Linked DNA regions of Homo sapiens: region 1 is linked to region 2. The links come from fine-mapping of genetic effects on gene expression. Tissue or cell type: whole blood. Region 2 holds a variant in brackets; the other region holds the start of a gene. All regions are shown on one strand. Distances are from middle to middle.

What was found. PIP is the estimated chance that this variant, and not a neighbour inherited with it, causes the effect.
Region 1: PLXNB1 starts here. The variant in region 2 is fine-mapped to the expression of PLXNB1 in whole blood (TOPMed, PIP 0.99).

The regions. Positions count from the first base shown.
Region 1 is chr3:48,425,140-48,433,239 of GRCh38, reverse strand. It overlaps PLXNB1 (plexin B1), which reads left to right and starts at 3,154. Exons shown (of 38, transcript NM_001130082.3): 1 at 3,154-3,232; 2 at 7,907-7,959. CCDC51 (coiled-coil domain containing 51) reads left to right here. Exons shown (of 4, transcript NM_001256964.2): 4 at 74-1,067. The coding sequence ends at 832. RefSeq lists enhancers at 488-537, 1-853, 2,207-3,200 and silencers at 3,441-4,040, 4,121-4,200.
Region 2 is chr3:48,397,216-48,405,315 of GRCh38, reverse strand. PLXNB1 (plexin B1) reads left to right here. Exons shown (of 38, transcript NM_001130082.3): 38 at 726-1,462. The coding sequence ends at 830. Among named protein-coding and RNA genes, the nearest start is that of PLXNB1, 29 kb to the left of the region's middle. The variant G/A (reference allele first, on the strand shown) is at 4,264.

The sequences.
Region 1 (8,100 bases), 28 kb before region 2:
CATCTGCTGGTGGCTATAGCTGCAGGGCCACCTTGTGCCCATGTAATCCAATAACATGGCTTTGCTTCTGCAGGAGGAGAAGAGGCTTCGCACAGCCTATCTGCGTGCAGAAGACTCTGAGCGAGAGAAGTTCTCCCTCTTCTCTGCAGCTGTGCGGGAAAGTCATGAGAAGGAGCGCACAAGGGCTGAGAGGACCAAGAACTGGTCCCTCATTGGCTCAGTCCTGGGGGCCCTGATTGGTGTGGCTGGCTCCACCTATGTGAACCGTGTGCGACTACAGGAGCTGAAGGCTTTACTCCTGGAGGCGCAGAAGGGGCCTGTGAGTCTCCAAGAGGCCATTCGAGAACAGGCGTCTAGCTACTCCCGCCAGCAGAGGGACCTCCACAATCTCATGGTGGACCTGAGGGGCCTGGTACATGCTGCTGGGCCAGGGCAGGACTCTGGGTCACAGGCAGGTAGTCCCCCGACCAGAGACAGAGATGTAGATGTCCTTTCAGCTGCCTTGAAAGAGCAGCTTAGTCATTCCAGGCAAGTCCATTCATGTCTAGAAGGCTTACGAGAGCAGCTTGATGGCCTAGAAAAGACTTGTAGCCAAATGGCTGGGGTGGTTCAGCTTGTAAAGTCTGCAGCACACCCAGGCCTGGTGGAACCAGCAGACGGGGCTATGCCCAGCTTCTTGCTGGAGCAGGGGAGCATGATCTTGGCACTGTCAGACACGGAGCAGAGACTAGAAGCCCAAGTCAACAGGAACACCATCTATAGCACCCTGGTCACCTGTGTGACATTTGTGGCCACACTGCCTGTGCTCTACATGCTATTCAAAGCCAGCTAACCCCTGGCCCCTCCTCCAGAGGGTCTGAGGCAATAGCTGTGAATGTGGATTTAAGTAGAGAATCGTAGCAATGAAGCGAGCCTTTGGGGGCATGTACAACCTCAATCTGAAGGAGCAGTATCTGTGTGGCTCACCAGCAGGCATGCTTCGCTTTGTAGACAAGGTTCATTTACATTAATTATCAAAACTTTGTGCTAATGTCCAATTAAAATATCCTGAGTTTTATTATTTAAAACAATCAGACTGAGTTTTTTTCATTAAGAATCAAGATCCAAGACTTGAAGGTTGGGCCTGGAGTTGGGGTAGTCACCCCCTTTAGTTCCTCTCTCATCTCCTCTCTGTCCTCTTTTCTGAACTGTTATGGATGCACTCCTGAGGCCTAGATTTTCATTTTGGATTTCCTCCAGTTACCTGACTGTCCGGTGTCAGATGGCCTGGGAGTTCCAGTGAGTGGAACCTAGCCTGCTGCCTACTCATTTCGTGACCATGGTTGCTTCCCATCTCCTGGATCACTTTCTCTACCATGTGGGGGAGAACTTCCTGGTTCTAGTACTGGAGGAGTGATCAGAGGAGAGCAGGGAAGGGAGATTGGGAGAATGGTTGATAAATGTTGCTGGGGACATAAGTATAGGGATTGGTGGCCAGTCTGGATCCCTGGTACAGAGATTGCTTTGGGCAGCAGTGGTGTGCCACGGGGGCTGGGTGCACACCCCCACACAGCCCGGGGATATCTTCCACAGGCATAGGCAGAGCTCAGGACACCGGGAGTGTGCATGGAGAGGCAGTGATAGGGAGGGGGGGGTCTCCCACAGGTGGGAGGTGCAGTGGGGCATATGTATGATCTCTTTTCAGAGGGGAACAGTGACCCTTGACCTTGACTAAATGGCCATGGGTGGCCTTGTGTGCCCTGAGTAAACAGGAGCTTTGGGCTGGTATTCAGTCCTGGTGTTGGAGTATTGGAAGTCAGGCACATTCCAGAGAACCCACTCCCCTTTGAGAGCGCAGGGTAGCTATATGCAGGGGGGCCGCAGGTGGGGACTCGTTCACTGGTGCCTGTGCAGAGCTCTCAGAGCCTGTGGAGTCAGGAGTGTTTCCCATAAGGCATACTTTCTTCTTGGAGCCTGTGTTCAGTCTTGGGCAGTGAGCATGGCCCAAATGCCCCCCACCCCAGGTTCTCAGCACCTGGTCCCTCAGTCAATCTATCCTTGGCGAGTAATGGCTCCCCAGAATGGCATGGGATGGAAAGACCCCTGTGCTTAGAGTGTTCACATTCCTTGTAGGGCAGGAGGTAGCGTATCTGTGTACAGATGAAAGGGGTTGTGGGGTTTGGAAGTCCCAGTTTCCTCTGGGGTGAGATAGGTCCTGAAGTGTGTGCTTGGATGAATGGATTTGGGGAGGGAGGGATTCTGTGCATGTGGAGGGGGCTGCTACAAGCTACATAGGCAGGAAAGCCAAAGTGGGTGAGGGACTGGGGCAGACTGTCCTGGCTGGGGTGGTGATGGGTGTGGGGGAGTTGTGCAGAATGATGTCACAGGCCCGGGGTGCCAGGTTGGCAGTCTGAGGTCAGAGGCTAAGGGTGAGGGATCCAGGGAGGGATTGCTATGCTGGTGCAGACAAGGTGCTAAGCACCTGGACTCAGGTGCTGGAAGTGGGAGTGGAGGAAAAGGGGTGACCTGACAGGAGACCCTTGATAGCTGGTGGGAGGTGGGAAGAGGGTGTCTCTAGCTCTAGGGCAGTAGCCAGTGTGGATGACCTGAACCTCCTGATTGAGGCTCCCCTAGCCTGTGGAGGCCTTGGAGGCTTTCAGATGATGCCTGTGACGTTTTTGCCTCCCAGGAAGCTGTGCCAATGGCTTTGAGCCAAAGTCCTCCAAAAGTCCTAATAGGATGGGCCAGGTTCTGGTCCTGAGTTAGCCGTGGGCATGCCAGGGTGTGAAGGGCCCTGCACAGGGTACAAATGGTCCCCAGGAGAGAACCTTTCTGCCAGCGTTTCCTCCCGCAGAAGGCCCAGGTGTTTGCCAGTGAGGGAGCCCAGACTTGCCCAACGCTTCTCAGCTTGGGGTGGGTCCAGGTCTGGGTCCTGGGCTGGGAAGAAAGGAAGGAAGTGAGCCCTTGCTTGTGCGCCTCTGCAGCCCAGGTTCCCTGCCTTCACAGCCCCGCTAGAGGTGGGATCACCCCCACTTACTGGTGAGCAAATAGGCTGGGGGGGGTTGGTGTCAGGTTACATGGTTTAGTTGATGGCGCAAGCCCAGGTCCAAAGCCCATGCTCTTCTCAAACAGCCAGAGGTGGGGGCCGGAAGGAGGGATTGGCTGTTGGGGAGTAGTGGGAGCAGGGGCGGTGAGCAGGGGCGGTGGGCAGGGCCAGGTGCGCAGGGGAGAAACAAGGCGCCTTGGAGTTCAGGTAAAGAAAGTTGGGGAGGATGACCACCGGAGCCGGGTAAGGAAGGGAAAGGGAGCTCCGGGCGCGGGGCGAGGCCGGGCGCTGGCAGAAGAACGGGTCGGGCTGGTGAGGGACTCGGGTGCTACCCGGCTCTGGACGGGCGGGAAGAGGCCGGGACGCTGTTCCACCAGCACCTGCGGGTGCGGAGCGCGACCCCCCGCCTCGGCTCCTGGCAACCAGGAAAGTTCCCAGTTCCGGTTCCAAGGAGGCGAGCAGGTGAGGCCGACGGGGCGGGGCGGCTCTGGCTCCCGGGGTTCACTCCTCACCCCTCCGGGCGACCCGCGTTGCCATGGCGACCGCCGCGGTGCAGCCCGCCCCCGCCCTCCCCCGTGCGGGAGGGGTCGGGTCCCCAGCCCTCGGCCGATGCGGAGCCCGCGGGGCTGGAATGCGGGGTCCCGGGCGGTTCGGGGCCGCGCGCCCGGCTCTCCGGGCTGCTTCCGGCCTGGCCCGGGCGGCGGGCGGGGGGAGGGCAGCCCGGCAGGCGAGGGGGAAGGAGCGGAGACGAGCCCGGCCGACGCGGCTTTGTCTCCTTTGTTCCCGGCGGTGGCAGCGCCGCGCGGGAGGGGCGGGCAGCGGGCGCAGTTTTCCGCCCCTCGGTCTCCGGGTAACAGCTGCGGCTCCGCCAGACCCGGGGAGAGGCCGCTGCGCGCGGAGCCCGAGCCCGGAGCGGCCGACGCCCGCCTCGGCGCGCACATCCCGCGGGGCCCGGCCGGGTGGTGAGTGCGGGGCTCGGGGCCAGGGCGGCGAGGAACGGGGCTCCCGAGGTGGAACGGGCCGGGGCCCCGATCCCGCCGGGCAGGGGCGGCCTGGGTGAGTGGTGGGCGGCTTTGGTTTTGAGAGTTGGGACCACACTTCTCCGCGCGAAGGGAAACTCTGGCGACTCCGCCTGGAACGCGATTGGGAGACTGAGGAGGTGGAGCTGCTCCTCCGCGCCCCCTCCTCGCCGTCGCCGCCGGGGACCGGCCGGCCCCTTCCCCGCCCTCCCAGGGCCAGTGATGGGGTCCTCGCCTCGGGGTCTGGGGGTTGGGGAGGGTCAAGGACGAGCCGAGTGGGGAGGTCGGGGCTTCCCCTCAGTAGTAACAGCCCTTTCTGGCTGCTCCCGGTGGGACTGACAAAGGCGGACCTCGAGCCTCCTGACCCCCGGGCGGGTGGGGGGGACCCTCCTCTCCACACACAGACATATTAAGTGGGTGATCGATGAGCGCCTTGGGTCATCGCAGGTGCCTGGTAAATGGTGGATCTCCCCACCCCTCCTCAACACACAGAAAACAGGGCGGGCAGCGGGCACCACTGCACTGTCAATGAATAACTCACCTCTGTAGTGAACCCTGGGAGCTGAGCAGGAGGGTGAAACGGGAAGGCCGGTTTCCCACTAACTGGCAGGCAAGGCAAATGTGGGCTGTCCTATGGCCCCTCTGCAGGTGCGGAATGGCGGGGTTTGTGAGCCCCTTTTGTTGTCGAGGACAGCTCCACGGGGGTCCGGGAGGTGCTTGCTCTACAGACAGAAGTTGGGCAGTCTTGCGCCCCCTGAAAAGGTTCAGAGTAGGGTGGCCCCAGAAGAGACTCCAGGGCATGTGTGGGGGAGCACTGGGCACAGGCAGAGTTAGGCTTTGGCTGTGAGTCTGAGCAGGGCCTCAGATATTGGGAATGGGCAGGAGATCCTGGCTGTGTAAGTTGGGGATGTGAGGTCTGGTTCTAGATCAGCCTTTTCAGTCTGCCCTGGCCTGGTCATTAATAAAAGTGGGGCCAATGTGTTCCCTTTGAGAGACCAAGTGGCTTGGAGGGATTGTGGGCCCCCTATCTCCCCTACTTGTTGGGTTTTCTTGGGTGTGAAATGGGGGTTCGTTCACCATACAGGGAGCATCTGGTCTGTGCTGAAGTCTGTGTAAGTTGCTGGGGCCTCTGAATCAGAAGCCATACTCCCTGCCTTCAAGGAGCTTCAAGTCCAGAGTAGGAGGGTGGAACAGGGAGAAAGGTGACCCTGGTTGGCATCACTAATGCCAGGCACACACTGTTTCATGTTTACTGGTCAGAGCAATCCTGCCTCCCATTGTACAACTAGGAAATCTGAGGCTCGGAAAGCCTGAGGCAGAGCGGCCGTGCCTGTCAGGGTGGTGGCTAGGTGTGTCCATTCTGTCCACCGCATGCAGCGGCCTCCTCAGGAGCCTGGGAGGACAGGGGAGGCTCCCCAGGGAGAGGATGGTTGGTGTAGGAGTTAATGGGATAGCGAGGGAGTGGGCATTCCAGGCAGCGGCAAGAGCCTGTGCAGCGGTTGGAGGAGCCAAGCAGCCTGCAGTTCAGGCTGGCAGGAACGAAGGGCATGTGTGGGGGAGCACTGGCATGGATCGGGTGGGAGAGGTGTGGACTGGAGGGGTAGGCCTTTATCCCTCCCGCTCTGGGGTGCCCCAGAGGCTCTTGGGGGAGGGGTGTACTCAATTCTGCTCAAGGAAAGTCCTGAGAAGTTGGGAGTTGGGAGGCTAGATTGGAGGGGCTGGGAGCTGCTCAGTGGCCTGTGGCAGAGATTAAGTGAAATCCATGTGCCTGAAATGGAGGAGAAAAAGTCACTGCTCTTCTTTCTGTCCTCCTTCCGACACCCATGGTATGTGTGGAGGGGCAAGGGGTGCTAGGTCCTGATTCACAGGGAGACTGCTGGCAGAAGCCTGACCACTTTCCCTGGAGTGGGTCAGCGGCCGACCTCCTCAGTGGCCTGGCCAGGAGCTGTTCTGATCCCGCCCATTTCTTCCTGTTGTCTCCTCATCCAGTGTTTTTTTTTTGTTTTTGTTTTTAACCATTTTTTCATCTCCCAAGGCTCTGTCATGCATCAATGCAGTTTTGATTTCACATATGGGGAGTGGTTTTGTTACTGCCCCTTGAGGGCTGGAGAACTTTGGCACGCAGTAGGCTCTGAGCAAATATTTGTAAGCATGTAGGAGTGAGTATTGGTCTAACTATGGGACCCTGTGCCCAAGGCCCATCCCTGGCATGCGGTGGCAGGAGAATTGAACAGTAGCCCCTTGCAAGAGGTGGCCTCTGCCCATCCTCAGGTGGACTCTGTCTTCCCATGGGAAGAAACTTTCTTTCCTCATCCCTTGGAAACTAGGTGGGGGGCTCTTGGGCAGCCTGGTCTTGCCACAGTCCTGGGATCCTGGCCGGGTTCGAGACTTTCCCTGCTGCCCCCTTCCCCCCGCCCCCTTGGGTGGCTAACAGAGGCAGCCTTGTTCCTGCTCCCATAGAGCTGCCCTGTTTTCTGCACACTAAAAATGGAAACCCCCAAGCTATTTCGGGAGCAGTGCCCAGCCAGGCTGTGACCACGGCCCCCCTGCTCCCACCGGGCTGTGGCCACAGTGTCCCGGCTTCCACCAGGCTGCTGGACCCTCCCCTGAGCCTTGTGCCCGGCCCTGTTCACTTCAGGGCAGCCTCAGGAGTACCCTGCTCAGGCCTCATCTGCTAGGATGAGCCGACCTGGGAGAAGCAAACGCTTGGGATATTTTGCACAGACAGCTTGGCAGCTGGGTGATGGGAGGGGCTGGGCAACGTGGCCTGGGCACAGGCAAGTAGGGGAAGTGTCTCCCAGTCTGAGATGCATTGTCTGTCCCAGCACTTCACCAACCTTGGTGCTCCTGGCTAGAGACCACTGGGGAAGGTGGTATTGCCATAGTTTCTTGGTTCAGGGACTCAGGAGCCTCAGCTGGGGCCCAAGAAGGGGTCTGTGTGGAAAGCAGGCACCCAAAGTCTGGGGAGGTCCTGGGGATGGGCCTGGGAACAGCCAGGCATGGCACCTTCCTCCAGGACACACTCCACTTACCCCACATCTTGGGCCCTGGCACTATTCTGAACTGCAGGAGAGGAAATAGCAAGAGATGGCCTAGCTTCTACAGCTCTCTAGTACGTAGGGCTCCAACTAAGTACTCTCAAACGAGGGGAGTGTGCCTGAGTGTGCGTGTGTATGTCTAAATGTGAGTGGTGGTCTGAATGTCTCGGGTGAGTGTGACATATGTGCCTGCAGTGTGTTTCTGTGTGGGGGAGTTGTCTCTATATGGATGTGTCTTCATGTGGTGTTTGAACATGGGTGGCTGTGTCTGTGTGTGTCACTGTGCTGTGTGTATAGATGGCATCTGCATCTCTCTCTCTCTGTGTGTGTGTGTGTGTGTGTGTGTGTGTGTTGTAGGCATATACATACAGGGTGGGTGGTGTGTATGTATCTTGCTGTGCGACTGCCTGTCTGCTGAAGCGCTGGTGGCCCTTTGGGCTGGGACAGCCCCTGGCTGTGTAGAGGGTGTGTACCTGGGTGCCTTTACAGGGTGGAGTTTGAGCAGAGAGAGGGACCTCACAGGGAGAAGGCCATGCTGGGGGCCTGGCTGGGCCCTGCCAGCCACGGGGCTCCTTCCTAGCTGACCTTTCCCAGGCCCCTCGGGTGCCTGGCTCTGCTGCCCTCCCCCTCCTCATGTGGGCTCTGAGGAGGCGTCCTCTGTGGAATGTGTTTGGTGGCCAGGGGCCAGGCTGGGCCCAGCTCCACCAGCAGGCTGGGCGGTGGGGAGGGGGTGCTTCTGTGCTGCCTCCCCGGTGGGGAGCCCAGGGCTTCCACGTGCCTGCAGCCCAGGCCCCGGCTTCACACTCGGCTTTCCCGCCTGCTAGGTGACTCCCACACGGGTCATGCTGTTGTCTCCTGATCCAGCCGGCCCTGCCAGGTGAGCCTGACCTCACACTAGATATCTAGGAGCAGCATGACTCCTACCTATTCTGAGGGCTCTCGGAGGTGGGGGGCAGCCCTTCAGGCCCCACCCCTCCGAGCTGGAACCTCTTCCCATCTCTCAGGCCTGTTGGTTCTG
Region 2 (8,100 bases):
GGAGCTGGTGAAGCTTTTTGGAGGATCCCTGGGCTGTGCCTGAAGAGCTGAGCACCTGCCAGTCAACCTGCTGGATGCCTGGTGGAATAGTCCACTTAGATGTTTGTGTGGCACCAGTGACATGGCTATTGCTGCTCAGAGATGAGGAACCTGTCTCATGGCCCACAGCCTTCCTCGGCATGGTGTGGGCCATGGCACGGGGCTTGGGGGAGGCAGGGTGTGATGCAGGCATGTCCCCTTGTGGAGACATAGTGGGCAGTAGCTGTTTTCCCAAGTGCTGCTGCCCTCCGGTTCCTACCGGTTCCCTTGGTGGCAGCCCCAAATTCGTGGTTCGTGTTTGATCAGTGTCTGTTTTCCCACCACGTGTCTGGTCATTCTTGGGTCTCTGCCCCTTGTCTGGCACCGGGCAGACAGGAACTTGGGAAATACTGTTGGCTGGCGGGTGGGTTAGCCAGGATGGCTGCAGCAGGGCTTCTGAGGAGCTCGCTACTGAGTCAGGTCCTTCATTTCCTACCTTATTCATCCTGGAACCCCGCGGTGACTTTGATGTTATTACCCCTCCCGCCAGCGAGGCCCTGAGGTCCCAGAAAGTACGTGAAGTGACCGGCTGGGTTTCTTGGCCTCCTACCCCACTCATGCCACAGCGTCTTAGGAGGGCTGTTGAATTTTGCAGCAAACACGTTGGCCAAAGAAGTCTCCCCTGATGGCATTGGTCTCTGTTTCAGATCATCACTGCCCTGGAGGAGGATGGCACGGCCCAGAAGATGCAGCTGGGCTATCGGCTCCAGCAGATTGCAGCTGCTGTGGAAAACAAGGTCACAGATCTATAGGAACCCAGGAGCCACGGCCTGCTGTTGCTTCAGCCTGGCCTGGGCAGCCCTGGAAGCTCGGAGGAGAGGCCACCTTCTTAGGTGCCTGTAGTGACTGACAAGCAGAGTTAGTGGAAGGTGACTCCCAGTCTCCTGGTGGCTCTGGCCTCGGCCCTGCTGGATCCACCTCCTAGACCCGGGGCCTCAAGGCTCATGGGGTAGTACCCAGCCTGCTCCCCGAGTCCAGCGACCCTGTGACACCGGTCTGCAGGGAGTTGGGGACTAAGGGCTTCCAGAGAGTGGCTGGAAGAGACTCCAGGCCCCTGGGGAGACTGTACTGTTCCTGAACACTGGCCTTGGCCACACTGGGATTCGGAGAGGAAGGAGGAGAGCCCCATGCTTCCTGTCTGCCTCCTCCACCATCCCTGACCTCAGTTGAGCTGCCTCTGGCCTTGTTGCTGCTGCCACATCCTAGGTCTAAGAGTTGAACGCCTCTCCTAGGCCACTACAAACTGACCCCTCAGCAGGGCTGGCTGCCACAGGGCTGCCCTGCCTCATAGGTAGCCATGGTGAGGGCTATCTGCTGCAGGGGGGTCTTGGGGAGAGTGGTGACTCCATTGACCCAGCTTTTCATTAAAGGATAACACACTGCACTGAGTCTGATGTGTGAGCCCGGCCTAGCCCCTGGCTACTAGGAGGACGGCAGCTATGCCCAGCAGGTACCAGGGGGAGGTGGTATCTATACTCTTGGGGAGTCTCATGGTTCCCCATCATATCCCAGACTGCAGGGCTGGCTGAGGCTCTCCTTGACGCCTGGGCAGGGTCTGGTGGGGTCAAAGCTTCCGTGAAGGAAGAACCCCATCTGGGGCAGGGCGGGTGACCGAGATAGAGGGGTCTACAGTCTCTTCAAGGGGGCCTGCTTTATCTGCAGTTTGCGTATTCTCACTTCTCCACTCATGTTCTATTTATCTTGAAAGGGACTAGGAAAGGATGACATAATTACAGGCAACTCTAGGCAGAGGGGGTCTCGAGGGCCATTTTCCATGGTCCTGTTCCTGGACTTAGGGTTTCTGTGTTGCCTTCCAAATCAGGGCATCCTAGGGCCGGCTCCTAAACTGTCTGCCTCCATGAAGGCCGCCTTATATGGTTCTTCCTGATTTGTACCTGGAGGTGAGCTTGGAGACTGTCTTATCTGGTCTCATGTTGCTAGTTGGGTCTGTAGGGCAGGGGGTTGATACTCCTCTTGACTTGAGACCACCCTCGGCCTTAGCAGAAGGCCAGCCCCCCATGGAACAGAAGAGATAGGGTGGCAGCTCTGCCTGGCAGATGAGAGGAAGGCCCTTCAGCCTTGAGGCCTTCAGAGGGATCATCCCTTTGGCCCTCTGCTTATCCTCCATAACCCAGTGACCCTTAGCATTTCCTCTCGTCTGGCACAGAGACCACAACCTCCCCTCGAGGTCTTCATTGAGTGTTTAGAGAGAGACAGACTGATAGAATTCCAGGAGGACTCCTATCCCCTGCCTTTTTTTGGCCCTAAATAAAGCCATCCACTGTAGGGTTGCCCCTACAATCCACAAAGTCCTTGTCCCTAAGGAGCCATGTTGGTCTTGTCTGTGCCGGGGGTAGTCATAGCTGCTATTCTTCGCTGTGGCTCCATTGTCCCTTCTTTCCCATTTCTGCCGGATGTGGGGACCACAGTCAGGTCAGCAGCCAGGTGCCATCATTTGGGAGCATGTGAGCTTGGATGCTCTGGCCAGGTTTTCATAGCCACCCAGAATGGTCCTGACTTTTCCCGTTGGAGACCATGGAATGGGTCTCCATCTTGACCATCTCTGGGAGCAGGGTGGATGGGAAATCCACTTGAGGGTGGACTTCAAGCAGACACAGAGGGAAGCAGCCTTGGTCAGCACCACAGACCTCGACAGAGCCATGCCTCTGTTCCAGAGGCCTCTCTGTTCCAGGTTCAGGCCCCTGCAGGTTTTAGGGGTAGGTGAAGGCTCCCGGGAGAGGGGGGCCATGTGCCTGCAAGCCTGGGCACGTGCCCGCGGGAGGGGTGAGTACTGAACGTGCTTTGAGTCACTCACTGAGTCATGGCTCAGCCGCCACAGAACATTGTTATAATAACAGACATAGAGAAGAAAAACCTGGCACAAGAAGATAGGAAATTCTGTCTTCACTCCAAACCATGACCAAGAATGGAGATTCCAACACCAGCAAGAATTTGTGATCGCTTAACTTGGGTCATGACCACAATTTCAGCATAGAACATTTGTAATTCAGTTTGATCAATCTTTTCCTAATTTTTATTAAGACTGCAACGAAAGTGTGCCCTCATTATTACATTTTTCACAAACCTGTTAGCATACAAAGGGCCTTTGTTTCTCATTACCACCCGGGGCTCCTTAAGGCGTTTTATGGAGTGATGTGCTTTATTAAAAAGCGTTTTCACCAACTTAAAAGTTGGAATAATTGTCCAAATGGTTACATGACCCAGGAGTTCTATATTTTTATTAATTTTCTGATACTGAAATAATCGTGCTAATTAAGATAACAGCTGAATTTATGCTGATGAATGTTGGAATTCTTAGAAGCCACCTGAAACCTTCCAAATGGTCAGGACCTGGATCCCACTGGCCAGTGCCAACAGGTGACTCTGGGTGGTGCTGGGGGATACAGGGAACCTAGCTGTGTTCTGCTTGGCACCAATGGCTGCTGATGCATGTGTTTCCTCCACCAGGTTCCCTAAGGATGCCACATTGAAGAACAAATACACCCCAAACTACCTAGGTCAGCTGACTGGCGATGTTTTATGGATCTCTCTTTAAAAGTGTTCTGTCGGCCAGGCGCAGTGGCTCACCCCTGTAATCCCAACACTTTGGGAGGCCGAGGCAGGCGGATCATCTGAGGTCAGGAGTTTGAGACCAGCCTGCCCAACATGGCAAAACCCCGTCTCTTCTAAAAATACAAAAAATTAGCCAGGTGTGGTGGCGGGCGCCTCTCATCCCAGCTACTCAGGAGGCTGAGACAGGAGAATCGCTTGAACCCGGGAGGCGGAGGTTGCACTGAGTCGAGATCGCGCCACTGCACTCCAGCCTGGGTGACGAGCAAAACTCCATCTCAAAAAAAAAAAAAAAAAAGTGTTCTCTGTCTTAATTAAGGATGATGGTTTATCCAATTCCAAATGTTTACCAAAAATCTAAGATAAGGATATCACCATGATGTTTGAAAGAGAATTTATGCCCTGGTTGTGATGTTGGGGTTTTATTGATAAGAGTTTCAGTTATCTGGATGATATGTGCACGTGTAAGGAAACAGAATGGTTTGCCAGTTGTCCAGGTGGCCATGAAGAGAACCTCTGGAGGTCTAGGAATGTGAAGCTCAGATTTTGGAAACCTGGTCCGGTGTCCTGGGCCACAGGTAAGTGGCTGAAGCTGGTGGTTTGCTGCCATCTTCT[G/A]GCCATAGTGTGGAATTTATCAGAAGCAGCTACCAATGAGGGTGTCTGGAGCTCTATAAATTGCAAGCCTGGGCAAGATAGCCAGACCCCATCTTTACGAAAACTGTTTAAAAATTAGCTGGGCATGGTAGCACACATCTGTAGTCTCAGCTATTTAAGAGGTTGAGGTGGGAGGATTGCTGGACTCCAGGAGTTTGAGGCTGCAGTGAAAGATTATGCCACTCCACTCCAGACTGGGTGACAGTGAGACCCTGTCTCTTCAAAAAAAGAGAGAGAGAAATCACAACAGTGGAATTCAGTAGTGCTGGAGCTTAGTGAGTAATCTTACCCTGTCTTTAACGTGAATTCTGGTTTTAGGGTGAGCTATGTCTTAGGACATAGTTGAGATAACAGTGAGTGACTAGTCAAGAAAACAGCCGGGCACAGTGGCTCACACCTGTAATCCCAGCACTTTGGGAGGCCAAGGTGGGTGGATCACTTGAGGTCAGGAGTTCGAGACCACCCTGATCAACATGGTGAAACCCCATCTCTACTGAAAATACAGAAATTAGCCGGGTGTGATTGTGTGCACCTGTGATCCCAGCTACTGGGGAGGCTGAGGAAGGAAAATCACTTGAACCTGGGAGGCAGAGGTTTCAGTGAGCTGAGATTATGCCACCACACTCCAGCCTGAGCTGAGATTATGCCACCACACTCCAGCCTGAGCTGAGATTATGCCACCACACTCCAGCCTGAGCAGCAGAATGAGACTCTGTCTCAAAAAGAAAACAACAACAACAACAACAAAAAACCAGAAACCACTCTAGGTGTTTCCAATGGAAGGAATTTAAATATAAGGGATTGATTATGAAAGTGTGTGAAGGACAAAAAGGGGAGTAGTTATCCAGCGGTGAGTGACTATAGAAGCCTCTGTCACCTATAAGCTGGCAAAGGGGGCAGCAGTGTTACCCACAGCCTCTGACTGCTGAGTCAGTGGCGCCCGTGGGAAGCCAGGAGCTGCATGCTGGCTGACGCTGCAGGTGCCTGGGAACCTGCTAACCTGGCCCCTCCACCCATGCTGGTGAGTTGGTGCTGCTGGGGCACCTGCTGCCCTAGTGAATGGGTGCCACCAGGAAGAGAGGATTCAAGCCTGTCTTGCTCAAGACCTCCTCCACCACCAGACTTGCCTCAAGATCTCAGGCCCAAGAAGCCCCAGGGAGTGGAGTGACAGGAGCCTTGCTCTGGGAGGCAGGAGACCTGGATTCTAGTTCCTCCTCCTCTCACTGACTGGGCCTCTGGAGAGAAGGGCAGGGACATTCTGGCATGTGGCAGGAGCCACTCTGTGTCATGGGGTTGGATCCCAAGCTGGCACCTGGCAGGATTTAATGAAGAAACATTTATCAAGTGCTGGATCAGTCCAGCTCCTGGCAGGAAACTGACAGCATGTACCAGGAAAGATGCAGCTGGAAGAGAGTTTAATGAGGGGACTACTTACAGAGCTGCAGGCTCTGGGAAGCCAATAAGGGATGGTGAAGCACAGCTGTTACCAGTCCTGGGCTCTAGGGGTAGGGACAGAGTAGTCATCAGGACCAGTGGGGCTGTGGCTAAAGGTGGAAGCTTCAGAGGGAGGATGCTGGGGGAATAATTACCCTGGCCTCTTGTTCCTCCCCACTGCCCAGACTCCTGCCAGCCCGTCCCGTTGGCCAAGCCACCTGAAAGCCAGAGGGCAGGGGAGCCTGAATGGCAGGGCAGCCTCTGGACTGCTGAGTGGTGAAGAAGTGGGCAGAAAACTGCCTCTGGCCTGAGGACCTGCTGTCCTGGGAGGCACCTAGCAGGTGCTTTGTCATTCAAGGCCACAAGGTCACGGCCATAGCAGTACTTGGTTTCCAGCCCCCTGGCTTGCAGAATTTTCCACCGCACTCCATGCCCTAGTGCTCCTTGGGCGGTGCTGCACTGTCCACCTGAAGGACCTTGGAAACACCAAATTTTGGGGGCTGACTGGGCCTCTTCACCTTATCTCCAGGTTGGGTGGGATGCTGGGTGTGCAAATAGGGACCCAAGGAAGACTCCACACTACAGGCTGTGTCTACAGCTTCATCTCAGGGCAGAAGTCAGCAGGGCCAGGCACAGACCCATCCGGAGCTGGGGGAGGGGCAGGACGCCTGGTTCTCTACACCCAAAGAAATGTGTGTGGGGCACTCCCAAGCCCCCACGCAGAGACAAACCCTCGCGCCTGCGCCCAGCCCAGGTTGCTGACTGGAGTGGAGGCAGCAGAACTCTGTGTGTGTGTGTGTCTGTGTGTTTGATGTATATGTTTGAAGTGTGTGTGTAGCATTGGGGACAGGCAGAGGCTCTGCTCAATGGGGAATGATGTTCTGGTGGAACACCCCATGGACTTGGAGCTTGAGAAGTGGGCTTTGGCCAGGCCCTGGCACTGACCACCTAGGAACAGTCATCTTTTCCAAGCTTCTGGTTCCTCTTCTGTAAGGTGTGAGTCCCTAACCACCTTTCCAAAGACAGCATCCTGTGCAAGCTGTCACGGGAGGGGGAAGGGCCCTGGTGACCCTCAGGGCCTCTAGAGCCTGTGGGCAAGAGCTGGCCCTCCATGCCAAGGTGCCAGGCCTAACCCTGGTGAAGAGTGACCCAACTGGGCGACTGCCTGAGGCCTCAGAGGAGGACAAGGAGAAGGTGCACAGCAGCAGGGTGCACACCTTGCCCTGGCCTCTCCTAGGGTAGAGGACGGTGTGAGCCCCCAGAGGCTGTCATCCAGCCTGAGAGGTTTCTTGGCTCTTCCTCCCATGCCCAGGGTTCTCCCAGACTGCAGAGCAAGATCCAGGCTCCACACAATGCCAGAGGCCCTGCCTCTATCTTCTCTCTGGCCAGCGGCCCTATCGCTAACCCCACACATGAAGGATACTGCTTTGGCATCATCGTTTGTGAGGGCCAGGCTGGGGAAGGGTGGAGAGAGTGTCCTTCCCTGGGGAGGCTGAACCCAGGGAGATGGAGTGACATGCCCCAAAAACACAGCAAGTGGGACTAGAACCCATGTCTCCAGATGGAACCCCAGGCTCCCACTGCTCCATGCTGTGCAGGTTACACCTCCCACCCTGCCGCTCTCTCCGGGGGCCTCAGTCCACCTCCTGAGCCCATGTCCTCAGTCCATGATTGGACCGGGTCCCTGGGTCCCTTGGAGGACCAGCCAAGCCCAGGTCCTTCTTTGCTTCTTACTCCCCACCCCAGTCTCCTTGTTCTTCAGTCTTTTGCTTTCCCACTGGCTCCCTTCTCACACCTCCCATGGCTGTGCCCATTTCTCCTTTTAACTCTGTCAACTTTTGGATCCTATATTTGAAGCAAGGCATGCATATATATTTTAAATTTTATTATCTCTGTTTTGATCTTTTTGTCATAAAAAATTCGTTTTTATTTCTAATAATACTTCCTGCCTTAAAGTCTACATTTCCTGTTTGAATGATGTTCAGTGTCCATTGTGTAAATTCTCATGTGGTAATTTCCTTTAAGAAATTATTGAGGGGCCAGGCACAGTGGCACATGCCTGTAATCCCAGCACTTTGAGAGGCTGTGGTGGGATAATTTCTTGAGCCCAGGAGTTCGAGACCAGCCTGGGAAGCATGGCAAAACCCTGTCTCTACAAAAAAAAAAACAAAAATTAGCCAGGGGTGTTGGTGCATACCTGTAATCCCAGTTACTCAGGAGGCTGAGGTGGGAGGATCACATGAGCCTGGGAGGTTGAGGCTGCAGTGAGTCAAGATTGCACCACTGCACTCCAGCTTGGGTGACAGAGTGAGACCCTGTCTCGAAGAAAAAGAAATTATTGAGGGCAGGGTGGTGGCACACGCC